3 separate regions of the Homo sapiens genome follow, and all the other regions are linked to region 3. Evidence: fine-mapped expression QTL. A gene starts in region 3. Each other region holds a variant in brackets. All regions are shown on one strand. Distances are from middle to middle. Region 1 overlaps CHURC1-FNTB (CHURC1-FNTB readthrough). Region 2 overlaps CHURC1-FNTB (CHURC1-FNTB readthrough). Region 3 holds the start of FNTB (farnesyltransferase, CAAX box, subunit beta).

Evidence for each region.
Region 1: its variant is fine-mapped to the expression of FNTB in whole blood (TOPMed, PIP above 0.99). The same link has a PIP of 0.9 or more in blood mononuclear cells.
Region 2: its variant is fine-mapped to the expression of FNTB in monocytes (BLUEPRINT, PIP 0.95).

The regions. Positions count from the first base shown.
Region 1 is chr14:65,026,924-65,037,120 of GRCh38, forward strand. CHURC1-FNTB (CHURC1-FNTB readthrough) reads left to right here. Exons shown (of 14, transcript NM_001202559.1): 7 at 530-676; 8 at 775-858; 9 at 5,687-5,773. It overlaps FNTB (farnesyltransferase, CAAX box, subunit beta), which reads left to right. Exons shown (of 12, transcript NM_002028.4): 5 at 530-676; 6 at 775-858; 7 at 5,687-5,773. It also overlaps a transcript of MAX not described here. Among named protein-coding and RNA genes, the nearest start is that of MIR4706, 13 kb to the right of the region's middle. The variant G/A (reference allele first, on the strand shown) is at 6,508.
Region 2 is chr14:65,038,363-65,048,559 of GRCh38, forward strand. It overlaps CHURC1-FNTB (CHURC1-FNTB readthrough), which reads left to right. Exons shown (of 14, transcript NM_001202559.1): 10 at 2,428-2,557; 11 at 5,949-6,081. It overlaps FNTB (farnesyltransferase, CAAX box, subunit beta), which reads left to right. Exons shown (of 12, transcript NM_002028.4): 8 at 2,428-2,557; 9 at 5,949-6,081. MIR4706 (microRNA 4706) reads left to right here and starts at 6,326; the gene lies at 6,326-6,407. It also overlaps a transcript of MAX not described here. The variant C/T (reference allele first, on the strand shown) is at 3,906.
Region 3 is chr14:64,980,409-64,990,605 of GRCh38, forward strand. FNTB (farnesyltransferase, CAAX box, subunit beta) reads left to right here and starts at 6,487. Exons shown (of 12, transcript NM_002028.4): 1 at 6,487-6,689. The coding sequence starts at 6,546. All of the region lies in intron 3 of CHURC1-FNTB (CHURC1-FNTB readthrough), which reads left to right. LOC107984655 (a long non-coding RNA gene) reads right to left here and starts at 6,705. Exons shown (of 2, transcript XR_001750792.2): 1 at 6,272-6,705; 2 at 5,131-6,191. RefSeq lists enhancers at 1,115-1,616, 10,120-10,197.

The DNA.
Region 1 (10,197 bases), 47 kb after region 3:
AGAGGCTTAGGTGGCAATGGGAGTGAGAAGACCTCTATTTACATGTTCATGATAGGCCTAGGTGATGGATCCTGACTAGGATGGTTAGTGTGGAAAGAAGCAGTTGAGCACCATGTTTTGGCAAAATTCAAAGGCTGGGAGGTTCCCAAAGGCAAGGAGGAGGAGGCTGGTACCACAGGTCCAGGGCAGCAAGTTGAGTGGAAAGTCTGGGAAAGGTTTGTGTGGGAAGCACGGGAGACTCTTACCCCATAGCTACGAAAGTCGGTTTCTTCCCAGCCTTGTGTTCCCTGCTTCATGACCAACAAGCGCTTAAGTACGAAACTCAGAGGAGGGCAGACAGAAATGATGATAGCTGGAGAGAGAATTAAGCCCTTTGGGGAGAGGTTATATTCAACAAGTGGGAGGAGAGGTTCCCCTCAACTTTTGAGGGAGTGGGGGATCATTGGAAAGGCCTGGAATCTAGTGGGAATTTGGTGTTTTGACATGAATGCTCTCTGACTTTGTTTTTGCCCTTTGGCTGTGTACCTAGTGTGTGTCAGTTCCTGGAGCTGTGTCAGAGCCCAGAAGGTGGCTTTGGAGGAGGACCCGGTCAGTATCCACACCTTGCACCCACATATGCAGCAGTCAATGCATTGTGCATCATTGGCACCGAGGAGGCCTATGACATCATTAACAGGTACAGTGAAAGCCAGCAGTGACAGAAACCTAGAGGAGTTCCCCGCCTGCTGACACGCACTGACTGTTGCCTCTCCTACCTCTTTCCCTGTTTCTCAGAGAGAAGCTTCTTCAGTATTTGTACTCCCTGAAGCAACCTGACGGCTCCTTTCTCATGCATGTCGGAGGTGAGGTGGATGTGAGGTGAGTGGGGTTTTGCACAGGCTGCCACATCAGTTGACTCTAGAGCTCATCTGCCATTAGAGATGCCAAGCCTAAGGAACATCATGGGGAAGCTGCTGCTTTGTCCCAGAATGACACATGGGATGACATGTCAGTGACACGTCAGAATCATTCAGATGTGATGCAGATGTCCTCAGGTGTCATGATCACTTGACTTATTTTATGTAAATGTGAAAATATAAGAAACAAATGCTTTTGTTTTAGAAATTAAAAATACATTTGTTTGGTACAAAATGATATACCACAATATAAATAACTGTATGGTGTAATGTATTCCTTCACCTCTCTGAGATAGGAAGGGAGGGGAAAGTCCAGCAGGGCCTCAGTAAATACCTTCTGAGTGAATTTGATGAAATCATGAGAATGTCTAATCCCTGAGGTCCTCCTGAGGCACATGAGAGTTTTTCTGGGAGGTGCAGAGAGCCTTGTGGGCCGGGAGAGTGCAGTGCAATAAAATCGCATTAACTGATTGGTGCCAGTTAGCTCGAAATTATTATTTTCTTCCATAAGTGTCTGATGTACCAAGCAAGTTGCTTCCTCACCTGGCAGATTACTTATGAGGCATACAGGGAATTCATTGAATAAGCCATTTCTCTAAGACAGTGGCTTATTGAGATTTTATGCCATTTTCTTATTATTTAGTTGAGAAATACATTTTGTGAGGTTTCTATAGCAAAGCTGTCTTACTGCCTATGTGTAAATGGGTTTGCTTCTACACAAGTTGATTAATAGTCTGGCTTAAGCATCTGGTTTAACCATTGGTTTGAAAGTATAGGGGAGGAAAAAACCACGAACATTGTGGAGCATAAAATACATTACAGATAATAGGTAATCAGGCTGCAAAGGCCTTTAGTTCAAGATGTTCTTCTATCTCTAACTTGTCTAATCCAACCAAAAAAATTAGATTAGGATCTGTGTATACCAGTGAAACCAGTAGAACGACTGAGGTAAATCAGTATGTGTTGATTCTTCTTAAGGAAAATGTTAAAAGAGTTTTTTTCCCTCGTGTTCACTACATTTTCGTTCCTGTTCTGTTGCTATTCCCCCAAAATATGCACAGTCTTGAAACGCAGCTTTTAAAAACCTACTAAGATTATTAGGCAAAAGCAAACAAATCATAGCAAGATCCTTTTGGTATTTTATCATATACCTTTTGCAGCTGTGATTATTTGCTATCTTATTCATTCCAGCACTTTTTTTTTCCCTATGCTCTTTATTTATATGTTCTAGATAAATGCTAGGAAACTTCTCCAGTAAGGCAGCTTGGTTCCCCTGCCAAGCACTGTAGCCATATTCTTCCCTGACCTTTGCTCTTTGGGTGATGCTCTGCCATTCGTGCCCGTGCTTTCTATTTACATAAAGGATTAAAGATATGAATGATAGAGAAAAGCTAGCAGATTGCATCCATTTTCCTTGCTTTGCCTGGTTTCTAGTACCCCGATTCCATCATTTTTCACTTGGCATTTCTTTCATTGTCCTTTGCCTGGAAGCATCAGCCAGTCCTCAGGAGTGCTTGTTTGGGTGGATTTGACTTGGAGAAAAGCAGCAGTGATGGGAGAGTTTGACATCTGGAGACTAGCTCGCTGCCCTTCTGGGATAGACAGCAGTCTCTGGATGATCTTTCTGCTCTGTTACACTGCTGATAGTTTCAGAGATGAGCCTACTCAAGGGTCTGTAGTTCCAGTGTATTGTAAAAAATCAAATCACAGTGAACTCATAGCAAGCACTATTTTTTCTCAGTTCTTAAGAAAGGAGACCTCCTTTCTAGGTTATATAATCTAGATCATTCTGTGAGGATAAGGTGGAGGCAGGGATCTAGCATTTGCAGAAGTTTGGTGAGAAAGCATGTGTTGCTCAAGAAAGGACAAGTTCAGTGTTGAAGTGTAGATGGCCTGGTGGGCAGGGGAGCAGTGGAGCTGGAGGGACAGGCTGGGAACAGGCTACAGAGGCCCTGAAATCTCCTATGGAGTCTGGAGTTTAGTGATGTGATCTGATTTGTATTTTCTTAGAAGTTTCCCAATTGCAGTGATGGACTGTAGTGTTCCAATAAAAGCCCTCTGGTTTCAGGGCTGGAGGGAGAGAGAGCAGGAAGACTGATCCAGGTTGAAGAAGGCTTGGATTTGGGTGATGGCAGCAAGGATGGAAAGTTAGTGGACAAATTCAAATTTGAGAGCTGCGATGACTGGGTGGAGGGAAAGGGGGAGAAATACATGAAAAGGTTGTATTACGTTTCCTCCCCATCTCAGCGTGAGACCTGGGACTCCTGTCTTCTGTCATCACTTCTTAGTCCTCACACTTGTGAGAGGCAAACTGTATTATAGGTCGCCTCCTACCTCACAAGTCACAATAGGATTCAAGAGCAAATGCATCTGAGCCTCTTTAAGAGGCCTACAATTGCAAGGAAATTAGACAGATCTTCAAAATTAGCTGCTGGTAGATGATCACATTTGGCATTGGCACTTGTGACTCTTGTGTGCTCCCAATGCCTGCTGGTGGAACTAAACTTCCACTGTGCCTTTGGCTGCTAAAAATGCTGGTAGGATCATAATGCATGCAGCTTCTGCAGAGACTTCTTTGGAATACCTCAGTAAGTCTGACTTCATGTTATATCTATACTGAGTAAGATGGAAACCAGGGCCGAGCGGCAGTGGCTCATGTCTGTAATCTCAACACTTTGAGAGACTGAGATGAGAGAATCACTTGAGGCCAGGAGTTCAAGACCAACCTGGGTAACACAGCAAGACCCTGTCTCTACAAAAAATTTTTAAAAAATTAGCCAGGTGTGGTGGCATGCATCTGTAGCCTCAGCTGCTTAGGAGGCTGAGGCAAGATCAGTTTGAGCCCAGGAGTTTGAGGTTGCAGTGAGCCATGATAGCGCCACTGCACTGCAGCCTGGGCAACAAAGTGAGATCCTATCTTAAAAAAAAAAAAGAAGATGGAAACTAGGCCCTTCTTTTATGTTTCTTAGGAGCCCTTAGGAATATACTTTTTGTTTGTTTTGTTTTGAGATGGAGTTTCTTTCTGTTGCCCAGGCAGGAGCGCAGTGGTGGGATCTTGGCTCACTGCAACCTCTGTCTCTGGGGTTCAAACGATTCTCCTGCCTCGGTCTCCCAAGTAGCTGGGATTACAGGCGTGTGCCACCATGCCCAGCTAATTTTTGTATTTTTAGTAGAGACGAGGTCTCACCATGTTGGCCAGGCTAGTCTCGAACTCCTGACCTCAAATAATCCACCTGCCTTAGCCTCCCAAAGTGCTGGGATTACAGGCATGAGCTACCATGCCTGGCCAGGAGAAGGATTTTTGAGCAGAATTCAAACCAATGATTTTTGTCTTCCCTGTGCCGGGTATTTGAAAAAACCATAGAGGGGAAGGAAAGGCAGTCTGTGTGTGTATACCATGACAGAGGGAGAAGCTGAAATAAAATGTGCCCCGAGAAGAATTAGGGCTGGGAGGATGGAACAGCAAGAATGATCCTAAATCAAGTATAATAATTTTTTGTGTTTGTTTTTTTTTTTGAGACAGAGTCTCACTCTGTTGCCCAAGCTGGAATGCAGTGGCATGATCTTGGCTCACTGCAACCCCCGCCTCCCGGGTTCAAGTGGTTCTCCTGCCTCAGCCTCCCAAGTAGTTGGGACTACGGGCACACGCCACCATGCCCAGCTAATTTTTGTGTTTTTAGTGGAGACGGGGTTTCGCAATATTGGTCAGGTTGGTCTTGAACTCCTGGCCTCGTGATCCACCTGCCTCAGCCTCCCAAAGTGCTGGGATTACAGGCATGAGCAACTGTGCCCAGCCTAATAATGCTTTTTTAAAAAATAGCCCGGGCGCGGTGGCTTATGCCTGTAATCCCAGCACTTTGGGAGGCCAAGGCAGGTGGATTGCTTGAGGTCAGGAGTTTGAAACCAGCCTAGCCAACATGGCGAAACCCCATCTCCACTAAAAATAGAAAAATAAGCCAGGCATGGTGGCATGCGCCTGTAATCCCAGCTACTTGGGAGGCTGATACAGGAGAATTGCTTGAACCCAGGAGGCGGAGGTTGCAGTGAGCTGAGATCATACCACTGCACTCTAGCCTGGGCGACAGAGTGAGACCCTGTCTCAATAAAAACCAAAACAAAAGCAAAACAAAAAATATAGACGTGCGCCTTTTTCATTTAACGTGTGTGTGTGTGTGTGTGTGTGTGTGTGTGTGTGTGTGTACTGGTGAGAGGTTTGAAATCAAGGCTCTTTTCTCCCTCTAGAGGTTTAAGGACTGTATTGGAGTGGACTCACCTGTTCCTATCCTTGTTTGATCTATTACAATTTGGTGGCCTGTTTTGCAGTTTATCTGTTGCAGAAAAAGTATAGTTAATCTTTAATGTGTCAAGGCTGTAAACAGAAATCCTGGCTCTGAAACAGTACTAACATCCAAATGAATGAGCATATCAGAAGTACCTGAATGATACCATAGATTTATGGCAACCATTATAGGTCTTTGAAAGAAGAGCTGAATCCACTTTTGACATGAATTGATATGGCTGTTATTTCCTCTGATGTAGATTGGACCATGTGGAGGTAGGGAGAATAGAATGTCATGTTCTTTCACTGAAGCCATGCCGTGAGCAACTCTATCCAAATAGAATGTCACACCTCTCAGTTGGAGACCCAGGAGGACTGACCGTGTGCCAAGAGTGAGGACAGGAGGTGATTACAGCTTACTAGGCAAGGCGAGCAGTCCGCCCGCGGAGTTCACTGAGCCTCATTAGCTCTTCCGTAGAGCTTAATGTGTTTCCCGTTTCTGTCTTTCCAGAAGCGCATACTGTGCTGCCTCCGTAGCCTCGCTGACCAACATCATCACTCCAGACCTCTTTGAGGGCACTGCTGAATGGATAGCAAGGTGAGAGAAGCCAGGGTTTCTCCTGGCCTCTTGGAGAGCAGGCGGTCACGACACTACTTCAGAAAAATAAAGAAAATGCAGAGGGACTTGGAAGGAAATACAAAAATCACAGGAGATCCATTAGGGTTATCTAATGATTTTTTTAAATACTTAAAATGTCTTCTTTTTTCCAAACTTTCTTTAATGTTATATTATATTTTAGATTGGCAAAGATAAAAAACTTTGGTAAACAATATTAGTGAGAGCCTGAATTGATTTAACCAGTTTTTAGAGCAATTTGACAGTATGTCAAAGGTGCCCTTGCGTAGGACCCAGTAATTCCACTCCCACAGAAACCCTTGCACACACGAATGGGAGAGAGGAGCACAGGACTTGTTTATAAGAGCCAAAAGCTGAAAGCAGATTCAGTGCTCATAAGCACGAGATGGGTAAGTGTGGTATAGTTGCATCGGAATATAATGTAGCAGTGAAAATGAATGAACTAGAGTTACATGTATCAATATGGAAAAATCTCTATGTTGAGTTGAAAGAATGAAAAGAAAAAAATACAAAAAAACCATACAGATTAGCACATTTACTTAAAATTTGAAACATGCAAGAGAATTCTGTATTGTTTCTGAGAAGAATCATGTGGTAATAATATAAAAACATGTATACGAAAGATAAACACCAAATTTAGCATAGTGATTCCCGCTGAGGGGAGAGCAAAGGAAATGAGATAAGTCTGCATAGGA[G/A]ACTTCAGCTGTAATAGTTAACAACAACAAAGACCTGAAGTGTATATGGCTAATTCTAAGCTAGGTCTTAGATACGTGTATGTTCTATATTTTGTTTGCTGTACTTTCCTGGATGCTCCAAATATTTCATAGTTTAAAAAAAGCAGGCCAGGTGCGGTGGCTCACGCCTGTAATTCCAGCACTTTGGGAGGCCAGGGCAAGCGGATCATGAGGTCAGGAAATCGAGACCATCCTGGCTAACATGGTGACACCCCGTCTCTACTAAAAATACAAAAAATTAGCTGGGCATGGTGGCGGGCGCCTGTAGTCCCAGCTACTCGGGAAGCTGAGGCAGGAGAATGGAGTGAACCCAGGAGGCGGAGCTTGCAGTGAGCCGAGATCACGCCACTGCACTCCAGCCTGGGCGACAGGGCGAGACTCCATCTCAAAAAAAGAAGCAAAAGGTATAGTAGACACATATATACTATGATGGAATGATAGCCAAGCTGAGATACTGTTTTAGTTAAAAAAATTTTATTTTTATCAAAGTAGTATGTATTACCATATAAATATAATTTACAGTGATACCAGATGATATGCTGAGATCATGTTTACTTTTTTGTATGAGTTTCATTTTCCTGGAGTTAATGGATATATCATGAATGTACTTATGAATTCCTTCCCAAATTGTCTGTCAGAGCTATAAAAAATTACTCTAAACATAGTCAAACCCTTCAGGTAACCTGTCTCTGTGCACACGTGCGTTTTGAGTTGCCCCTTCTGGAGCCCTCTGCCCTCCTGCTTCAGTCTGGACAGATTGCTCTCAGCTTGCTACACAGCAGGCATCCCGAAGCTTCCTTTCAGCATGAAATTCACTTCATTTCTCTCCTTCGTTGAAGTCCCTGTCCTCCTTTTTCTTGGTTTTCTTATTTTCATGAAGTATTGTACTCCAACAGATCCCAAAAAAGGGTACCTGGGAGATACATTTTTAATATCTTGCATGTATCTGTGTTCTAATCTCACACTTAATTATTTGGTTAGAGATTTCTAACTTGGCAATGGTATAAACTGTAGTCTTTCTGAATTTTGTAAGCATTGCTTCATTATCTTCTGGCTTCCAATGTCATTGTTAATAAGGCTGATAATAGTAACCAGAGTTCATTGAGGACTGTCATGCTCAATGGTAAGGCAGCTATAGTTGAGAGCTGGAGAGTAGGCACTGCCTGTGTTTGGTTCTCTTTTATATTTTGTGTTTCTCAGCTGAGATTTTCCATCTTTTTATTCTTTATGAGTGCATTTTTCTTCATTTTGCTGTGGTAAGTATGGAATTATAATGTCTGCTTTAAATTGCTTGTCTGGGAATTTCCACATCTGTGTGTCCTGGAGTTGGCATGTCAGCTCCATGAGTCTTCCTGTGCTGAGTGATGTTGTGTTGTGTCCTAGACATTGTGATATGATGGTGGAGGTGTCATACAACAGAACGGTATGGATTCTGTTGGTTTGCCCCAAAAGGGGTTGATGTTTTCAGTTTAGCAGGCAGTCAACTTGGTCAGACTCAAGCTACAAACTGTCACTCATGCAGCAGCTCAGAGCTCAGTTCTTGCTTAGAAGTTGCTTTGTTTCCCCAGCACGTATGTGGAAACTTGAACTGAGTTTAAATGCAGAATTTGGGATTTTTCTTCTTTGACTTTCCTGTTTCTGGATTCGTCCTCAGTTTCTGGCAGCCTGCATCTTCCTGCCAGAAGGATGGTTGGCTTCCCATTAGAGTGTTGGCTGCCCGCCCTGACCCCTGACCCCTGGCCTGCTGCTGCCGCCCTGGGCTATGGCTGCCATCCTGAGGGCAAACCAGAGAGAAAAAGTTGTGGGGGAAGGGAGGGACTAACTGCATGCTGTTCTCTGTTCCAAGTTTCAAACTCCACCAAAATCTGCCTGCCCTTTTTCAGTCAGCTGAACCCTCAGGAAGCTGTTTTTTTGTATTTTGTTCAGTGTACAGCTGTCATTTGCAGGGGGGTTGACTGGTTAGGCACAGACTAGATACGGAACTCAGACAGCCTGGGTTTGAATCCCAGTTTTGCCCTTTCTTTCCTCTTCTCTTCCTTCTTTCTTCCTCTGTCTTTCAATTCTCTCTTTCTTTTTTTGAGACCGAGTCTTGCTCTGTTGCACGAGCTGGAGTGTAGTGGTGTGATCACAGCTCGCTGCAGCCACCACCTCCTGGGCTCAAGCAATCCTCCCATCTCAACCTCCTAAGTAGCTGGGACAACAAGCGCGTGCCACCATAACCAGCTAATGTTTAAAAAAAAAATTTGTAGAGATGGGATCTGTCTGTGTTGTCCAGGTGGGGCTTGAACTCCTGGGCTCAGGCTATCCACCCACCTTGACCTACCAAAGTTCAAGGATTACAGGCATGAGCCACTGCGCCCAGCTTTTTTTTTTTTTCTTTGAAGACACGGTCTTGCTTGTTGCCCTGGCTGGATTGCAGTGATATGATCACGGCTCACTGCAGCCTTGACCTCCTGGGCTCAAGCAGTCTTCCCACCTCAGCCTCCTGAGTAGCAGAGACCACAGGTGTGCACCACAACACCTAGCTAATTTTTAAAATGTCTTGTAAAGACAGAGTCTCACTGTGTTGCCCAGGCTGGTCTTGAACTCCTGGTTTCAAGCAATCTTCCTGCCTCAGCCCCACAAAGTGTTGGAATTACAGGTGTGAGCCACGATGGCCAGCCTGCCATTTCTAATTAGCTTTGTGCTTGGACAAGTTATTCCACTGCTCTGTGTCATAGTTTCCTTATATGTCAAGTGGTGGGATACTGAATTTAATTAATTTAATTTAATTTATTTATTTTTTGAAAGAGGGTCTCACTTCGTCACCCAGGCTGGAGTGCAGTGGCGTGATCTTGGCTCACTGCAGCCTTGACCTCCTGGGTTCAAGTGATCCTCCTGCTTCAGCTTTCCAAGTAGCCAGGACTGCAGGTGTATGCCACCACACCTGGCTAATTTTTGTGTTTTTAGTAGAGACGGGGTTTTCCCATGTTGCCCAGGCTGGTCTTAAACCCCTGAGCTTAAGCAATCCGCCTGCCTCAGCCTCCCAAAGTGCTGGGATTATAGGCGTGAGCCACCACACCCAGCCTTTAAATTTTATATTAAGCAGAAATACAGAGAAATCAAATGGATTCCACTGTGCTGTACTACCTGGCAGTGCCATTGTGATTCTTAATTCTCTGTATGTTTTTTTCTTCTGTCTCTCTTTTTCTATCCCCATCCTGTCCTTCTTTAGCGGCTTGGAATCTTTATTCTTTTTGTGTGTGATGGAGTCTTGCTCTGTCACCCAGGTTGGAGTGCAGTGGCGTAATCTCAGCTCACTGCAACCTCAGGTGCCTGCCACCATGCCTGACTAATTTTTGTATTTTTAGTAGAGACAGGGTCTCGTCATACTGGCCAGGCTGGTCTCAAACTCCTGACCTCAAGTGATCTGCCCTCCTGAGCCTCCCAAAGTACTGGGATTACAGACATGAGCCACCTCGCCTGGCCTGGAATGTTTATTCTTGTTTGGAAACTTGATGATGAATCTTGATGTGGATTATTTTTATTCATTTTGCTGGGCACTCGATTTGGAAGTGCATATACTTTAGTACCAAGATTCTTTATTACAGTATTTCTTTGATAATTTCTTCTCTTGTGTTTTCTGTGTTTGCTCTTTTTTTTTTTTCCTTT
Region 2 (10,197 bases), 58 kb after region 3:
TCGCACCATTGCACTCCAGCCCAGGTGACAGTGTGAGACTCCATCTCAAAATAAATAAATAAATAAAAATAATACTGCCGGGTGCAGTGGCTCATACCTGTAATCCCAGCACTTTGGGAGGCCAAGGCAGGCAGATCACGAGGTCAGGAGTTCGAAACCAGCCTGACCAACATGGTGAAACCCTGTCTTTACTAAAAATACAAAAATTAGCCGGGCGTGGTGGCATGCACCTGTAATCCCACGTACTCAGGAGGCTGAGGCAGGAGAATCACTTGAACCCAGGAGGCGGAGGTTGCAGTGAGCCAAGATTGTGCCACTGTACTCCAGCCTCGGCATCAGAGCGAGACTCTGTCTCAAAAATAAATAAATAAAAATAAAAATATTTCATTGCATGGTTCGTTTCCATCTCTTAATCCTTCTTCTTATACTTTGAGAGATTCTCTTAGTATTTATCTTCTAATCCTCTTGTTTTTATTTTTGTAATCCTATTTTTAGTTTTCCTCCCTGACTACTTTTACTTCCTGACTACTTTTTTATCTACTCTCTTGTTCTTTTCTGGGGATATTTTGTCCTCTCAATAGTCTTACTTCATATAATATTTTATCTAAAGATACAACTTTAAAAAGTTTTCTTTTGCTCCCTGTCTTATTTCCTCCAATTTATTTTTGTTTGTTTTGGTCTCCTCTTTCATAGTAGAGACTGTGGTCAAATGTCTGGTACTCTACAGCTGTCTGTTCATATTTAAGGATCCAGCACTGAAAAGCTGCTGGGGAGCTCTGCGAGAGTGGGCAGGATCAAGCCATTCATTGGGGAATTCTCAAAGCAGTGTCTGTAGGGTTTTTCCCTTGGGCTTATCAGTTCCCTCAGAGAGGAATCTTCTAAATTCCTGCTTGGGGTATGAAACTGGCAGCCTTGTGTGAAATACACAGAGGAATGGGGCTGGGGGTATTGTGTTGAGATTACTGACTCTCACGTAATCACATTTGGTACAGTGCTCCCTCCTCCTCTTAGCTTGTTGGATATTCTGGAACTCAGATCCTTTTGATTAAACCTCTGAAACTTCCCATCTTCTGCTGGATTTGAGTAGGGGACTTAAAGGTCTGATTCTTATATAAGTTTGCAACCAACAAACTTGGTTCAGACGCATTCCACTTTGTGGAGGTTCCCTGTATCTCTAATCCTGGAGCCTTTTATTGGAGCAGATCACCTTGCTTTTTGTTGCCCCTCTCCCATCCCTATCCTTTGGGTAGGAAAGGTTTCTCTATTCTACTAAGTCAGTTATTTCTTGTCCTTCTTGTGTTAGTCCATTTTGTGTCAGTATAAAGGAATACCTGAGGCTGGGTAACTTAGAAAGAAAAGAGGTTTATTTGGCTCATGGTTCTGCAGGCTGTTTAAGAAGCCATCACCACCTGGCCTAATTATAATTTTTAAAAATAACGTTTATTTTTTAATAGTATACAGGTTCATTATAAAAACTTTTTGAACAAATAGAAAAACAAAAAGGAAAAATATTACTAGTAGACCTGTACTCAAAGATCACCAGAGGCCAAGTGCGGTGGCCCATGCCTGTCATCCCAACGCTTTGGGATGCTGGGGTGGGAGGATTCCTTGAGGCCAGAAATTTAAGACCAGCCTGGGTAACATGGCAATGCCCCATCTCTACAAAAAATACAAAAAATGGTCCGGGTATGGTGGGGCACGCCCATAGTCCCAGCTACTCAGGAGGCTGAGGTGGGAGGATTGCCTGAGTCCAGGAGGTTGAGGCTGCAGTGAGCCATGATCTGCAGTCAACCTAGGTAACAGAGTTAAGACCCTGTTTCAAAAATAAAAGATCACTAGAATCAACAATCACTCTTTAATTTTATTTTAACTTGATGGTTATCACTATATATATATGTATATATATGTATATATATGTGTGTATATATATATATGTATATATATGTGTATATATGTACATATATGTATATGTATGATTTTATAACTTTTTCCCAAAGAGTAATAATTTGAATTATTATGTTTCTTACACAAGTAGGCTGTTTCTAAGTGTCTGGGTTTTTAACATTTTACAGTTTTTATTATACTTACATTTTTTGGAGACCTAGTCTCACTCTTTCACCCGGGCTGGAGCACAATGGTGTGATCATAGCTCACTGCAGCCTCGAACTCCTCGCCTCAAGTGATCTTCTTGCCTTAGTCTCCTGAGCAGCTGGGATTACACATGGGTGCCACCAGGCCCAGCTTTTTTTTTTTTTTTTTTTTGAAAAGACATTTCCAAAAGTTAATTAGTTGGCATCTTTTCATTCATAGTTGTGATGGTTCACACCTTAATCTGAGTGAACTTTTTCTCTGCCACCTAGGATGGTCCTGGTCTTGTGTACGTCCACTCACTGGCCACTCATTCTGCTTTTCTCAATCTCTTCTTAGGTGTCAGAACTGGGAAGGTGGCATTGGCGGGGTACCAGGGATGGAAGCCCATGGTGGCTATACCTTCTGTGGCCTGGCCGCGCTGGTAATCCTCAAGAGGGAACGTTCCTTGAACTTGAAGAGCTTATTAGTAAGTATCTTTTGAGCCATCCCCCTCTCAGGCCCCAGGTCATGGTGATGTGATTGTACTCAGACATGCAGGCTTCAGGAGAGTTTGGCTATGGGAAGGGCTAAGAGAGTTAGCTCTGTTCCAACACAGAGGAAGGAGTGAGCAGCTGCTCTGTCTTGGCTCCCCCTTCTGCCTTTCTGTCTTCCTGCTTAGAGCTTTTTACATAGTGTGTAGACTACATAGACTGTGTGCTGCAGACATCTGGTGTGAGCAGAGTACCTTCCTTATACTTCAGTTTCGTAGAATTAGAGGTTATCGTGTGTTATAGAAAGAACCTCCTAAGAGGAAAAGTTACAAGAAGAGCTTTGCAGCATTTCGAAACCAAACTTTTATTACCTGCTGCACTGTGTAAACATTTAGTACCTACATTTAAATGAGTTGTTTAGGCAGAGCTGGCTAATTGCATTGAGAAGGCAGCCCAACATTTATGTCTGGACCCCACGCTCCTGGCCAGTATTCAGAAGAAACTCAGAAAGCAGTCAGCTTCAGGGAGTCACTAGATTGTAGTTAAATGATCAGTGGGTGCACAAACACACACACCTCCACGGCCACCAGGGAGAAGGCATTCCCCGTCATGTCATTTGGGGAGCATGTACCCCCTGACCATGACGTCAAAGCAAACCAGCTGCAACTGACATGCACCTCCTCTCCCTGAGTTCAGATGCCAGCCTCCCGTTATGCGGCCCATCGTGAGCTTCCTGGAGAGTTTCTGTTGTACCCTGTAGACATGTAACCAGCAGTGTCTTGCCTCCACCTTCAGAAAGCCTCCCCCGGTGTAGTCTTTTTAAAGATTCATGAAGGCTTGAAGGCTCATGCTGAAACAGCCAACTTTGTATGCTGAACTTAAGAGTTTCTCAGATGTTTTAAAATCTGAACACCAATAAGGCATGAAACAAAAAAGTCCCATCTCCCAGGCAGAGATAAGGAATGTGATTAGGGAGTGCCTCAGTTATAAAGACAGTGTTCTAGATTTGAACCCTGTCCCTACTACATTTGAGACATGAGTCCTTGGGCAAATTGTCTAATCTCTTTTAGCTTGATATTTTTTTCTTTTATAAGGTAGGGATAACAATCCTTATTTTTTTAAGGTTAAAGGAGAGAACATTTATAAACAGCCTGGCACATAGTAGGTACTTAATAAATGTTAGTGTCCCTCTAACCCACAGTAATAATCTTTTTGGCACAAGGGACCAGTTTTGTGGGAGATAATTTTTCCGTGGACCTGGGGTTGGGGGTGGGACGGGGGGTGATGGCTTCAGGATGATTCAAGTACATTACATTTATTGTGTACTTTATTTCTATTATTACA[C/T]TGTAATATATAATGAAATAATTATACAACTCACCATAATGTAGAATCAGTGAGAGCCCTGAGCTTGTTTTCTTTCAACTAGACAGTCCCATTTGGGGGTGATGGGAGACAGTGACAGATCATCAGGCATTAGACTCTCATGTAGAGCGTGCAACCTAGAAGCCTGGCATACACGGTTCACAGTAGGGTTTGCGCTCCTATGAGAATCTAATGCTGCTGCTGATCTGTCAGGAAGTGGAGCTCAGGCAGTAATGGGAGCAGTGAGGAGCAGCTGTAAATACAGATTAAGCTTCACTGGCTCACCCACCACTCATGTCCTGCTGTGCAGCCTGGCATGGTCTGGGGGTTAGGGACCCCTGCTCTAATCCAGACTACTCCCTTCCATTTGCTTTGGGAGAAGTAGGACCCATATCTGAAGTATGAATTCCTATAGCCCAAGGAAACAGAACAAATCCATGGGCTTAGGCACTGGAAAAAGTAAATTAGTCTGCTTAAAAACACTTAAGCCCTGCGGTAAGTAGAAATGAGGAACCGACTCCCACTGCAGCGCCTGCTTTCTCTCTGCCTGAGTAATGCTTAGCCCACTTCCATTACATGCTGGAAGCCCTGGTTCATTTAAGATCAACCGAGGATATATTAGTACCTGAACCTGCAGTACAGTGTTTTCTGTCTCTTTTAAGCATTTGTGACTGTGACTCTCTATGGGCAGGTGTTGCCTTGAAGAGGGAATAATCTAAACAACAGCTTTTAGGGGAGGGCTGGCCCCCACTTCCATCAAGGGTCCCAGTGGCTCCTTTCAGGACCTTTACCTAGTAAGACTCTAGAAACAGGAAGTACCCTCCCCTGTACCCTTTCAGTTGAGTGAGGCAGCTCTGTAAGTCCGTGGCTGGAACGGCCTAGGTGGTCTAGGGAGGGAAATGGAAATGTCATATCTGCTCAGCCAGTTGGTTCTGCTCATTCTGAGGGACCAAACCCATGACTATCTTGATCTTTGTAGTAGAGTGTGTTTAGAAAACTTGTAGATAAGCAAGGAATGGTGGTATCGTGTGTGACCGCTGAGTGACATCAAGACCAAGACCTATTTTACAGCTTCAAAGTAAAAGATTTTCTTATATCAGCCACAGACTGGGCAGAGTTGTCATTTGGTAATTAGAATGAATGGCTTCTGCTTTCAGGCCTGCTAGTGACTTGCTAAGAGACCTTGGGTAAATTTCCCCAGGTGCCAAGTAAAAGTCAGGAGCAGTTTGAGATCATCTGATGAAATGTAGTACCAGGCCGGGCACGGTGGCTCACGCCTGTAATCCCAGCACTTTGGGAGGCCGAGGCGGGTGGATCATGAGGTCAGGAGATCGAGACCATCCTGGCTAACAAGGTGAAACCCCGTCTCTACTAAAAATACAAAAAATTAGCCGGGCGCGGTGGCGGGCGCCTGTGGTCCCAGCTACTCGGGAGGCTGAGGCAGGAGAATGGCGTGAACCCGGGAAGCGGAGCTTGCAGTGAGCCGAGATTGCGCCACTGCAGTCCGCAGTCCGGCCTGGGCGACAGAGCGAGACTCCGTCTCAAAAAAAAAAAAAAAAAAAAAAAAAAAAAAAAGAAATGTAGTACCAAATTCCATTTATCTGCTTTTAATAAACTCCCCGGAGCAGGGAAGTAATGAGAAATGAGCTACTGGTAGTCTTGCCTTCAATTTCCAACTTAAGCCATGTTTATTAAGAGACTTTGAAGGTCTCCTTACAAACCAGCTTGGCCTCTTTATCTTCTCAGCACTGGCACTGCTTTGGAACCCAGGAAAAGGTAGTTGTCTGCCAGGCATTGAGCAGAGATCAGTGCTGGATGCCTCTACAGCGTTGGCTTAAATGCTTCACTCTGTGTCTATGGCAGTGTGGGGAGGGAAGGAAAGAAAACCAGAGCACCAAAACTAGAGTGCCAAGAAGCCACAAGATGGGAAACCCTCCATCCCACAGATTGACTCCTGGAGATTCTGTCGGGCTGGATTTTGTCTCTTTTAGCCTACAACTGCCTTTCCCATCTGTGTCTCCTCAGCAATGGGTGACAAGCCGGCAGATGCGATTTGAAGGAGGATTTCAGGGCCGCTGCAACAAGCTGGTGGATGGCTGCTACTCCTTCTGGCAGGCGGGGCTCCTGCCCCTGCTCCACCGCGCACTGCACGCCCAAGGTGAGCCTGGGGAGCTGTTCACTTGGGGCTGGATGATTTCCCTCCACTACTCACAAAGTCTGGAAGCCCAGCGTGCTTTTTTAGAGGGGTTGAAATGAGCTCTGTCTATCCTGGATTTTGAGTGCCCAGTGTGGAACCTCATGCCGTGGGGCATGCGAATGCAGAGTAAGATTTAGTTTCATTGGTTTAGTGTCATTCTTTGCTTCTTCAAATTGGCTGCGACAGAATGAGCTTCCTTGAAATTGCTACGGGGAGCGGGGAGGAAGTGGGCGCTGCTTCTGCGTTATCTGGAAGGAGCAGCCCACTCCTGTCCTGGGCTCTGTGGTGATTGCCACCTCCTCTGGGTGCAGGGCAGAGCTGAAAACCCTCAGTGTTGCAACAGTCACTGTTGCAACAGCAACAGGAAAGGCAACTGCGTAAAGGGGTAGAGAACCAGAACCCATGTGTAGGGGTGGGTTGTAGGGGTGGGTTGCCCCTACACCATGGAGAAGAGACTCGCCGTGTCTGACTGGCTGCAGAGTTGTCACTATTAGAAATGTTTTATTTTACATTCATTGAATAAGCCTAAATGGGAGTTTGTTCCACCTGCACCATTGGAGTAGAGAAATCCACGTTCGTTTCTGTGGGGTCTCAAATGGGAACGCAAAACCGAAGTAGTTAGTGAGCAAAAAGTCTGGGAACATTCTCTCTCTATCTCTTGAAACCTCAGTCTGCCTGCTAACTCCTGCACCATCTTTCTGGTGTACTTGATGTGAGAGCAGGTGTCTCTGAGTAGACCTGTGGGAGAGAGGAAGTCATGGGGCCCTGCTGGTTGCTGATCTGTTTTTGGAATGAGATCCCTGGGTCCAAAGAGAAGCTGTTCTTCGGACTTAGTTGGATAATGTAACTGCTCAAATGTAAAAGATGAGATTCTTTTCTGCCCCTCCCCATACTTTTTTTTCCTGTTTCTGAGCCCCCCACCCCCCGTCTTCCCCCCTCCCCGCCGCCCCCGAGATGGAGTCGTGCTCTGTCTCCCAGGCTGGAGTGCAGTGGCACGATCTTGGCTCACTGCAGCCTCCACCTCCCAGGTTCAAGCAATTCTCCTGCCTCAGCCTCCTGAGTAGCTGGGACTACAGGCGCGTGCCACCACACCTGGCTAATTTTTGTATTTTTAGTAGAGACAGGGTTTCACCATGTTGGACAGGCTGTTCTTGAACTCCTTACCTCAGGTGATCCGCCCACTTCGGCCTCCCAAAGTGCTGGGATTATAGGCGTGAGCCACCGCACCCGGCCCTGAGCCTCATTATTTAGTTTCTTAATTTCCTTTGAGTTGTTGAGTTGTGACCATTTCTGACACTGAATTAAAGTAAGCAGAGCCTCTGTCCCATTTTCCCGGCCTGGGCCCACTGGGCTTTAGGTGTCAGTATTAAGGCATATAAGGCACTTACCCTTGGAACACAGCAAGTGCACTGTCAGCAAGTGCACTGACTTTGGAGCCTGCACAGTCTCTGCCTTGACCACCAGTAGGGAAGTCAGGAATTCCCCAAGTCAAACATTTTTTATTTTAGTATTATTTTTTTTTGAGACGGAGTTTCACTCTTGTTGCCCAGGCCGGAGTGCAATGGATCACTGCAACCTCTGCCCCCTGGGTTCAAGTAATTCTCCTGCCTTAGCCTCCTAAATAGCTGGGATTATAGGCATGCACCACCACGCCCAGCCAATTTTGTATTTTTAGTAGAGACAGGGTTTCTCCATGTTGGTCAGGCTGGTCTCGAACTCCTGACCTCAGGTGATCTGTCCGCCTTGGCCTCCCAAAGTGCTGGGATTACAGGCGTGAGCCACCGTGCCTGGCCCAACATTTCTAAGATAGAAAAAAACTTGGGGTCATGGTGATCTCTTTATTTGGAACTGGTGAGGTCAAGCCCCTGGTAAAATGGTCAGTCTTTTACAAACCTGTCCCTGGCATGGATAAGACTCAGTAATTCTGCAATCCCAGGGAAATGTGGAATGAGCTATAACAGGAGCACCACCTGTCAAAGTCTTCCAGGGGGGCTGCTGGTTAATTGTTTCTTGTAGCACATGTTCTAGGGGGCTTAGTGGCATTCAAAGCTTTGTCTATGGAAAAGGGTGCCTATGAATCTTGGTGCTTCCAGCTTTTTTCATTGGCTGGGAGAAGGCCTGTGTTGTCTTCTCAGACACAGGGCATCTCTTGAACTTGGAACAGACAGGAGTCTGTAAAGAAGGGAAGTGTGTTGAAAGGAGGGCAAAATACTGACTTTGGGAGTCAAAAGGGGATGCAGTGTAGAAAGATAGTCACAATATATTGTGATCATATCAAAGCAATATGTGTGGAATCCCATTTTTAGTGAAGAGTTGACTACAAAAAATTCATAGAAAGTATCTAGGATGTGAAGTTACAGGTGATGTTTGCTTCTGTTTGTATTTTCTAATCTTTCTATAGTTAATAGGTATTTCTTGCATAAAAAAAGACAACAAAAGTTATTTTACAGAAACAGGGAAATTCTACAAACAAAACAAGCAAAAAGGTGCGAAAAATATTTATAACAAGTGATGAATGGCTAATTTCTTTAATTTGAAAAAAAATCATACAAACCAGTAAGAAATGGATGGACAACCCAACTGAAAAACAGGCAAAGGATCTGAAGAAAGAGGTCCCAGTGAAAGAACTGTCCTTCTTACTTTTTCTACTACAACTGCCACTACTACTGGTAGCGGAGTCTTCCCAAGCCCTCACTGTATGCCAGGGGCTGTACTGAGCATTTCACATATGTTTTCTCATTTAATTCTCAAAACAACCCTATGAAATAGGTACCATTGTTTACAGATGAGGAAACAAACTACAGTGAGGTTAAGTGATTGCTTTATAATACCTGATTGGCACTCACAAGGGTTAGTATGTGGTTGTGTGAATCCAGACTAGCTGGCATCTGAACCCTGCCCTGCTCATAACCACAGTAGGTGGCCATTAATCCAACGAAAAATTGTTTAGCTCACTTGTAGTAAAAGAAATGCTAATCAAAAGAGTGGCACTATTTGTTTTTATTATTGGATTGGCAGAGATTAAAAAACTTGATACCCTATGTTGGGGAGAGTGTGAGAAAACAGGTAATTTGATAGTGGGGATGTAAATAGGTTAAGTCATTTTTTGGAGGGCAGTTTGGAGACATCCATTTAAATTATAAGGGCACTTACCCTTTGAACACAGCAAGTGCACTGTCAGGAATTTACCTGCAGGGATATTAGCAAAGGATGTATATTGAAGTGGAGTTTCAATAGCAGCCTAAGTGCCTATCAAAAGGTTAAGGGTTAAATAATAAAAATCTCTCCAAACAGTAGCTGCATACCATGGGCTGATATAGAAAGCTCTGCAAGATACAACATGAAGTGTAAGGGGGCGGGGCCTGGAGCAGTGCCTGGGCACACAGCCCGAGATGTACACAGCTTTTCCTGGAACCCTACACAAAACCCCTTGAACAATGGGTACCTTTGGGAGAAGAGAAGCAGACAGAAGACAGAAGGAGGGAGACTTTTTAGATTTTTTTTTTTTTTTTTTTTTTTTTTTGAGACAGAGTCTCACTCTGTTGCTGAGGCTGGAGTGCAGTGGTGCAATCTCGGCTCACTGTAGCCTCCTCGGTTCAATTGATTTTCTTGCCTCAGCCTCCTGTGTAGCTGGGATTACAGGCGTGTACCACCACACCCAGCCAATGTTTTCTATTTTTAGTAGAGACAGGATATGACTATGTTGGCCTGGCTGGTCTCAAACTCCTGGCCTCAAGTGATCCACCTTCCTTGGCCACACAAAGTGCTGAGATTACAGGCGTGAGCCACCATACCTGGCCAACTTTTTAGATTTTCTATCCTTCTGTATTATACTGTGCCTTTAAAAAAAAAAAAACCATGTGCATTACTAATTTTATTTTGGTAAATGTACAAATACATTTTTTAAAAGGCATTGATCATATTGCTAACTAAAAAGCAAAAAGAATGCTCTACATAGTGCAGCACGTGGGTCTAGGCCATGCCCTGACCCAGCAAGTGACCATCAGTGGCTCCATGCCATTGACTACCTTCTATGTGTAAATGACAGTATTTGAGTAGAAGAAGGAATTACTATTA
Region 3 (10,197 bases):
TTTTGTATCTGCTGGTAAAATATTCACCATGATAAACCCAAAACAGGACTGTGAGTCAATACTTTTGCACAGGTTTTCAGTAATAGAGTATATGTAATGATTAATAATATATAATGTAATTTATTTCATATCAACATACAACACAATAAAATAATGCAGCCATGTAGTATTGATGATTTATTGATTTCTGAGAAGCTCACAGCTGTTCTTTGTGCCATGAAATCATTGTACTGCATTTAGAAAGCTATTCTTTTGTTTTTTATGATTGGAAACATTTTATATTCCATTTTGTGTAATACAGAACATTTTAAAATACATTTCACAATTTCTAAATTTCGATATAATTATTAAAAAATGATTACTTCAGACTAGTCTCTTACAAATGTTACTAAACACAAATATTATACATAAAAGGCCATCTTCATTAAATAGATTAGAATGAATTACTCCTTCAGCTACATTCCCACTGTAAGAGAATACATTCTTGGGGAATATATTCTGTGTATATGTATTATGTCTTATTTTATGTTTTTATCATTTATATATATTTTTCATTTTTAATCTTTTCTACTTAATAGATTTATTTATATTTATACTTTTATTTTATACTCATTTTTATTTACATGGTCTCTGTAGTTATTAGATAGTGAGCTCTTGAAAGATAAGGCTAGTATTATGTTCATTGTCATTATCATCTACAATTATGTTACACAAACAAGCACTCAAATGTTCATTACAATGACTGGAAATCATTTGAACCATTTAACTTATTCAGTGTCTATTATGTCAGGGAGTACAGCAATGAATAAAACAGACCAAAAAAAAAAAAAAAATCCCTGCCCCATAAAGCTTACATTTTGGTGGAGAAAGACAGATAGTAAACAAATCAATACACAAAATATAAAGTCTCTGATCTAGTGATGAGAAAAATAAAGCAGGGGAGTGAGATTAAGCTATTACCAAAGGGGGTGGCACTCCCATTTTACATGGGGAGGAAGGAAAGATCTCAAGAAAAGGGAAATTGGGGTTAGATTAAAGAATTTGGGCCAGGCATGGTGGCTCATGCCTGTAATCCCAGCACTTTGGGAGGCTGATGTGGGAGGACTGCTTGATTCTAGCAGTTCGAGACCAGCGCGGGGAACACAGGAAGACCTCATCACTATAAAAATTTTTAGAAAAAATAAATTATAAAAAAAAGAAAAAGAAAAAAAGAATTTGAGTAAAAACTATAAGAAGGGAGGGCAATCCGTGTCTATGTCTGGGGCGGAGCTCTGCAGGGAGAGGCAACACAAGCATCAGTGCTCTGAGGCTGCAGCAGGAGAGGTGTACACAGAACAGCAGGGAGGCCAGTGTCAAGGCAGTGAGCAAGCTGGAGAGTGCAAGGGAAGGGGCCAGAGAGGTGAATGGGGTTCTCTAGGCCACCTTGACTTTGAGATGAGAAGAGAGCTTTGAGTGAAGGGGTGGCTTTGCTTACATTTTTAAAAGTTCAGTCTGGCTTTTTCATTTTGTCTTGGATCTTTGAGGCTGCTAGAACAGAATCCCATACACTGGGTACCTTGTCAACAACAGAAATAAAGTCCAACATCAAGGCACCTGCAGATTCGGTGTCTGGTGAGGGCCTGCTTCCTGGCTCATAGGTGATGCCTTCTCTATGTGTCCTTATATGGCAGAAGGAGTGAGGGAGCTCTGTGGGGTCTCTTTTATAAGGACATGAATCCCATTTATGGCAGCTCGGCCCTCATGACCCAAACACCTACCAAAGGCTCCACCTTCAAACACCTTCATATTGGGGATTAGGTTTCAACATATGACTACTGGGGGCACCTAAACATTCAGTCTATAGCAAGTTTGTATTAGGGTACAGGGGGACAAGAGTGAAAAGAGGGAGAACAGTTAAGAGATTAGTGTAAGAATCCAAGTAACAGATGATGGTGGCTTGGACCAGGACACTGGCAGTGGGATTGGTAAGCAGTGATCAGATGCTAGATATATTTAGAACAGAACTTACAAGGAGTGAGAAAAAGAGAGGCAGCAAGAATGATTCCAAGGTATTTGGAGTAACTGGAAGGATGGAGTTATCATAATAGAGATCGGGGAGACTGAGTGCACAAGTTTGGAAGGGAAGACCAGCAGCTCTGTTGTGGATATGTTAAGTTTGAGATGCCTATTGGAGATCTAAGTGGAAATGCAAATAGACATTAGACATGAACTCTGGAGTTCAGGAGAGATCCAGGTTGGAGATACAAATTAGGGAGTTTTCAACCTATAAGTGTTATTTAAAACATTGAGACTGCCTGAGCTGACAGGGAAGTTAGTGCAGACAGATAAGAAGTCTGAGGACTGAATCCTGGGGTACCCCAAGCTAAGGTATCCAAGATATTAGAAAGGCAAGGAAGGAGGAAAACCAGTGTGAGGCACCACAAGGACAATGTGTTTCAAGAAGGGAAATGATCAACTGTGCAAATATTGCTGGGAAGTCAAGAAGGAAGACTTGAGATCAGGACTGAGACCTGGCCCTTGGATTTGGCGATATGGAATTTAATGGAGAGTTGATAAGAAACGATTGGAAAACCTGATTAGAATGGGCTTGAGAGAGTTGGAAGAGAGGACCTGGAGACGTTAGTAGTAGCAAATCTTTCAAGGGTCTCCGCCAATGAGTCATCGGGAGGTAGCTGGAGAAGGAGTGGAATCAAGAGGGTTAGAGATGCACCCCCCCCCACCCCCTCATAGCCAGGCGCGGTGGCTCATGCCTGTAATCCCAGGACTTTGGGAGGCCGAGGCGGGCGGATCACGAGGTCAGGAGATCGAGACCATCCTGGCTAACACGGTGAAACACCGTCTCTACTAAAAAAAAAAAAAAAAAAAAAAAAATTAGCCGGGCGTGGTGGCGGGCGCCTGTAGTCCCAGCTACTTGGGAGGCTGAGGCAGGAGAATGGCGTGAAACCGGGAGGTGGAGGTTGCAGTGAGCCGAGATCGCGCCACTGCACTCCAGCCTGGGCGACAGAGCGAGACTCTGTCTCAAAAAAAAAAAAAAAAAAAAAGCCCCTCACCCTCCACGCTGCCAAGAATGAGAAAATGGCATGCTTGAGGGAGATCTGGATGATCAAGTAGAGGAAAAATTTGGTGTTTTAGGAAAGGAAAGGGAGAATTGCGACAGTCTTTGGGGGGTGGCGCGTGAGGGGAGGGAGATGACCTGGTCCTAGGTAGGAGATGGGGCAGTCATTCCATCTAGGGGAATAGGAGGGACAGGACCGCCGAGTAGGAGGGCACAGATGATGGTGGGCAGTAAACTTGGGGAGGAAGTTAATTACCTAGCGGGATAATAGATGAGTTCTTTCCATTTTCCAAATGTTCCAATATGTATTACTACACAGTTTCACAAGATATTAAAGGAAACAATTCATTCCGACATACGGCTTGTATGAGTGAAAACAGGGAGAACGGTGAGAGCAGTTTTAAAACTTACTCCCTAAACGCACTCCAGGGTCGGAAGCGACCTCTAGGGGTTCATTTAGACCATTACTTTTTTCTTTTTCTTGCTCTTAAAAGTATAAAACAGCACGGTCCACATTTAATATTATTTTTAAAGAAACACGATCAGTTTAATTTAGAAAAGAGTATCAGGCATGTGAGTAAAATAAACATAAACCATCTGCAGTCCAAGCTGGAGTTGCTATTATCATGACTAAGAGTTTTCTCTCTAAATATATCATTCTCTATAGCACCATTAATATTTATGTTCATTCTGCTTCTTGAATGAGTGGTTTTATTAAACCAAGAGGAGGGACAACTAGTGGGCTATTTGATCCAGGTCTTCTTGATGCTTACATGGAGTACAAACCCCACATATTTTTCATTGCTGGTTTCACTTGATTTGGTGTTGTCACTGGGTTTCCTCTGCCTGGGATGTTCTCATCCCCTGGATTAATTAACTCACTTCCTCATGGGAGTCTTTCCAGACCTTCCAGGCTACCTTAGGGTCCCCCCATCATGCAAGCTCACACACTCCATGCTTCTTTCTGCCTCATCCCATTTCTCCCAACTGTCATGAAAGAGTCAATTCTGTCATTACTGTTTAATGTTTTTTCTGGTAAGTCATGAGACCCATAATGGCAGAGACTGTGTCTGGCTTGTTCACTGCTGTCTCCTTAGCACTTAGCTCAGTGCCCAGCACTTACCCTGTACTCAATAAACATTAATTGAATGAGAACACACTATCCTGCCGGAGACTCTTGCCCATGTTCCTATTCACATCTTTTGGATCCCACTGCAGAGGAGACTGAATTTCAGAGATGAATTTTTATTTCTAAAATACAGTTTGCAATTGCTTTAGGTGCATCTGTGACAGATGCAACAATTTGTCACAAAACTGTCCCAGCTATTCTTTCAATAGCACAGTCTTCAGGATTGAAGCGTTAAGTTTCCAGCTCTCCTGCAAAGAAACTCTTTGTGACAAAGGCTGAATCCTTAGATATAACCCTGACCTTATCAGACCATTTATTTCCCAAAATATAACTAAGGGAAAGACAGTAAGATGCCAATACAGGGGGCAGTATAATGAGACCATTTCACATTGTGCAGCCTTATCCATGGGTCCTAACCCATACTGTCCCCTTATTTCCAGATTTGGTAATATTCTGGTGCCTCTAGGTCTTAGTTCAGCAACAGTACCACTAAAATGGACATGGTGGTAGTATTTATCCACCTGAGGTCTTTAGGCCAGCCCAGCCTCATCTTTGAAATTTTTGTGAGTGCTTCTATTTACTACCAGAGACTGAGAACAGGGGAATGGCTGGTTGTCAAATGTCACTCTGGTCTATAATCCCTGGATCCTAGACATGTGACATGGAATGGAGTGGGAACAGAGTGAAGTGCTCTGAGCAGGAAGTAAAGCTTGTCTCCAAGTGTACCCGGAATGTCTGTTATCATACCTTCTATAATCTCCTACATACAACTCCCCCAGTTTAATCTCTTGGTATTATAATTTTTGGTGTAGTACTTTTGATGCATGCCCTAAAATAAATTCTCTTCTATTGCTTGTCCAAAGGTAGCAGCGTTTTCCTAAAAATCACAACTTTAAACTTGGTTGTTCTGGAGGCAAGTGTGATGAGTAAGTCCACTCCATAAGAATCAATAAGAATTTCTTTTATTCTAGCTGGGCGTGGTGGTGAGCATCTGTAGTTCCAGATACTCAGGAGGCTGAGGCAGGAGGGTCACTTGAGCCTATGGTTTTTGTTTGTTTTTTTGTTTTGCTTTTTTTTTTTTTTTGAAACAGGGTCTCGCTCTGCCACCCAGGCTGGAGTGCAGTGGCACAATCATAGCTCACTGCAGCCTCGACTTCTTGGGCTCAAGAGATCCTCCCACCTTAGCCTGTCGAGCAGCTGGGACTACAGGCATGCGCCACCACGCCCGGCTAATTTTTTTGATATTTAATAGAGATGAGGTCTTGCTATGTTGCCCAGGATGTTCTAACTCCTCAAGTGATCCTCCTGCCTCAGCCTCCCAAAGTGCTGGGGTTACAGGCGTGAGCCACCGTGCCCAGCACATGTCTTCTAAAAGCTGCTGTTTCTTCCTTTTTCAGGAGTTCTTTCCCATACTGTTCTTCTGGATGACTCCTCGTCATCCTTCGGATCTCAAATGAAAGGTCATTTAGAGAGGCTTGGCCTGACCATACAATTCAATTAGTTTCTTACCCCTTTAGTCTCTCTCATAGACCCTGTTATTTTCCTTCATCTCATTTATCACAAGTCTTCATATATTTATTGCGTTGGATACATTCAATTCTGTCGATTTTCTTAGAATGTAAGGTTTCCAAGGGAAGGGACTTCGTTTTGTTCACTTTTGTATTCCTAGAACCTAGCACAATGCCTGACACATAGCAGGTGTTCCATAAATATCTGCGGACTGACTGTCTATTTCACTTATCCTTGTTCCTTGTACTGCATTTCAGTTCTCGCTACTGCAGTGTAACCTCCAAGAGACAGGAGAAAATCATAATACCCCCCTCCCTCCATCACTGAGTGATACTGAGACGGCGTCCTTGCACGTTTGAGCAGCTGCTGCCTTCTCCTGGGAGGCTGTCAAGTACCCCAAGGTGCACAATAATTCTTTTAGTAATTGCCTGACTGAGGCAAATCAGTAGAGCTGTCAGAAATGCTTTCAAACTTAACATTCATTGGGTTCTTGGGCACCTGAAATTGCAAACAATTGCATTACAATTAAGTGAGAATTAGCAGAATGTTACAGTTCTTTAACAATTTGCGTAACAAACCGAGGCGTCCTACGCCATCTCGCTGAAATGAAATTCGGATGTAGACACCCTTGCGCTTCAGGACTCTACGCTCTTGCAGCAGCTCCTCTGCCCAATGGGGGGCGGCAGCATCTCAGTAACTCACTCGAAAGACGGGTAGGCGGGAGGAGACATTCGCGTTCAAAATCTTTTTGCCTCTATCCGCTCGCCGTAGCGCTTTAGCCCGCTCGAGTTTCAATGCGCGTTGTTGCTTAACGAAGCAGAGTCCTACACACTGTCTGCTGCTCTCCTGATCATGGCTTCTCCGAGTTCTTTCACCTACTATTGCCCTCCATCTTCCTCCCCCGTCTGGTCAGAGCCGCTGTACAGTCTGAGGCCCGAGCACGCGCGAGAGCGGTTGCAGGACGACTCGGTGGAAACAGTCACGTCCATAGAACAGGTGAGGTGGCAGGACTGGGCGAGGCGCCCGCGCGATGTGTTCTGGGAGCGCGAGTCCCGTTCGTAGGGCCGCCCGGGTGCGGAACTCACCGGGGAACTACGACTCCCACAGCGCACCGCGGTGCCTTTCCTCTGGGAAGCTCCGGGCGCCCAGGCTTGGGCTTCGTCGTGGAGCGTTTGCGCGGCCAGCTTGGGGAAGGGTCGTTTCAAGGTTGGGCTTGGAGGAGAGGGCAGTAGCCGAGTCCCCTCTGCCCTAAAGAACGAGAAGAATCGTGTTCTATGCCTGGAGGACAGAGGCAGCCCGTGCGGGTCGGACAGCCCACTCTGTTCTGCCAGTACTTCGGGAGGTTCTGGGGTGCATAGTGCACTTTTCCCAACCTGCCCTCAGCTTCTGGAGGCAGAGAGCAGGGCCAGGCTGCTGTCATGCCGTTTCACGATCTGTTTAATTTTTGACCTACAGTGCCAGGTTTGGGGGCCCGCCTCGTGGGTGGGCATTTTGGTAGTCATTCAGCCATTTGAGCACCAGCTACGTGTCGGACACAATATTAAACGATGGAAGTACAAGGAAATAAAACAGCTCCTGACCAGGAGCCTGGTTGGGGGACAGGCAGGAAAACAGTTTGGAAAGTGATCTAATAGAAAGAATGGATTTTGGACTACTAATCATTCCCTAAGGCCTAGAAGTAGGATCGAACCTATCATTTTGAAAAGTGTTTGGCGAATGAGTATATATTCATATGCCCAAAACCATAGTTTTGTTTTTCTTCTTATTCCCTAATTGGAATTGTTCCCAAGGTTGCTATGTGGAACTGTTTATCCATCTGTCCCTAGGAGAAGTGGTTAGGATAATTCTTAACACTAATAAATGAACATTCTGCTGCTTACTGAAATAAGATCTCTTAGTGAGATCAGTCTCCAGGCTTTACCTTGGAGAGACCTGTTTTGTATTTCCTACTTTAAGTTGGAAGCCTGTACTTTGGCAAAATTAGTAACAATAATTGTTTTATTGTACAGTTATGACTAAATAGAATTATAAATTTATAACAGAAACAAGGGCTTGATACGTGGTTATTCACAAAGTAGCAGAGAAAATATTTTAACTGGAGATTTAAACTTCATGGAATTTAGGGTAGCAAAGGAAATCCTCACCTCTCGAATCTAGCTAATTCTCCAGGTTGGTTTGCCTACCAGTGTGTCCCAGGGAAGGCTGACTGCAAAAGATTGTAAAGAAATTTCCCATTGATGAAAAACCTACAGGATCTTTGCAGAATTCCTAAATGATGGATTGCTGAGTTGATTCAGGTCAAGTGTTTTACTTATTATCTGACCTTAGACTATGGGATTGCCTTTTTTTTTTTTTTTTTTTTTGAGATGGGGTCTCGCCCTGTTGCCAGGCTGGGATGCACTGGCTTACTGCACCCTCCGCCTCCCGGGTTCACGCCATTCGCCTGCCTCAGCCTCCAGAGTAGCTGAGACTACAGGCGCCCACCACCACGCCTGGCTAATTTTTGTATTTTAGTAGAGACAGGTTTCACCATGTGGCCAGGCTGGTTTTGAACTCCTGACCTCCAGTGATCTGCCCTCCTCGGCCTCCTAGAGTGCTGGGATTACAGTCGTGAGCCACTGCTCCTGGTGCGAGTATCTTTCAAATCTAGACCCAACGGTATGGCAGACAGTAAAGAATCTTATATTTCTTTTTCATGTTGTTATTCCAGCACACATTATTAGAGTCTAGGATGAACAGTTTCAGGTAGTAGGATGATAATGTTGTATCTCATTTTTGTGGCCTTCCTCACTGTTTTAATAATCATGTTAGTGACCATTTATTGAGTCTCAGCACAGTGCTAAATGCTCTCCATATGTGGTATCATTCAATCCTTTCACTTTTTATGGATGAGAAGACTGAGGTTTAGAGACCTACCACATTGGTAGGTTAATGATACATTCATCAAAAGTAACAACCTTGTTAGGAGGAGTTGTTTACAGAGGATATACTAGTACTCTTTCAGTTTTAACTAAAGCTTCCATTTACTGATAGCTCAATTTTGTGCCATTGCCAGTAAAAACAAATTGATGGCTGACACCTGTAATCCCAGCACTTTGGGAGTTCGAGGCGGGAAGATCACCTGAGCCCAAGAGACCAACTTGGGCAACATAGCAAGACCCTGTCTCTACCAAAAAAAAAAAAAAAAAAAAAAGTAGCTGAGCGTGGTGGCATGCACCTGTAGTCCCAGCTACTTGGGAAGCTGAGGTGGGTGAATTGTTTTTGAGCTCAGAAGTTCACAGATGAGCCATGATCGAGCCACGGTACTCTAGCCTGGGCAACAGAGTAAAACCCTGTCTCTTAAAACAAAAAACGACTATACTGATTTTGGTACTGGCCTGGGCAACATAGCAAGACCCTGTGTCTATTTAAGATGAAAGCTTTTCAAATTAAAAAAAAAAACAAACAAAAAATAAATGCTTGTTACCTGCTTCCTATCTGATTATCAGAAGACTCGGTTTATTTGTTAAGCAATAATTTGGTAATAGGAGTTAAACCTATAAATAGTGGAAGGAGTCCTTAGCTGTGAGTCGTCTGTTCCATTCGTTGATTCTCATTCATTCAGCAAATACTTGAGCGCCTTCTACGTGCCAGGCACTGTTCTAGACACTCGGCATAAGTTGTTAAACAAAAGAGGCCAAGTTGATGCCTTTATGAAACTGTTTCTAGGCCAATGAGGCAGTCAATTAAAAGAGTTAATATCTATAGCTATCTCAATATAAAATGTTAATTAGAAACGCTGTGGAGAGTAACACCTTGGGATAGAGGGGATAGGGTGTGTCAGGAATGGGTGGGGTGGGAGCAGGGGAGGTCTTCATATAAGGTGTTAAGGGGAACCCTCTGGTGACAACACATGTGATCTGAGACCTGAAGTCTCAGATGAGGGAGGAAGCCATCATGGATCTGGTGCAAGAGTATTCTGGGCAGAGAAAGCAGCAAGCACAAAGGACCAAGGCAGCAGAATGCCAGGTGAGCAGGGGGCTTAGCAAACCAGAGAGTAGGAGATGGGTCGGATCATGTAGGGTCTCATTGGCCTTTGGAAGTACTTTAAAATACCCTGACTGAGATGGAGAGCCACTTGGCTGTATACCTGCCATTTACTGCCCCAGATTCACTTGGCCCTTTTCTAGCCTGCTCTGTAGATGTGCCCCAGGAGGGGGCCCTGCACTGACAGGTTGCCTTGCTTTATGGCTGCGGGCCATGGGAAGTATTGCTGGGGGTGACCGAGAAGGAGAAGAATGAGACCACTGTATTTCTTCCCTCCTGCAGGCTTGTGTGGGGTGGGGTTTCCTTAGACTTAAGGTCACATTTCCTGTCATGTGCCTTCTCTGCGGAGCTCTTTGTCTCCCTCCCTCTCCATCCTTCACACCTTCAGGTCTATGAGGAGTTCAGGTACCCCTGATTTACCAGCTCCAGATACTGCATTTTCTCTTGTGGTTTCCCTACACCTGCCCACATCTTTGTA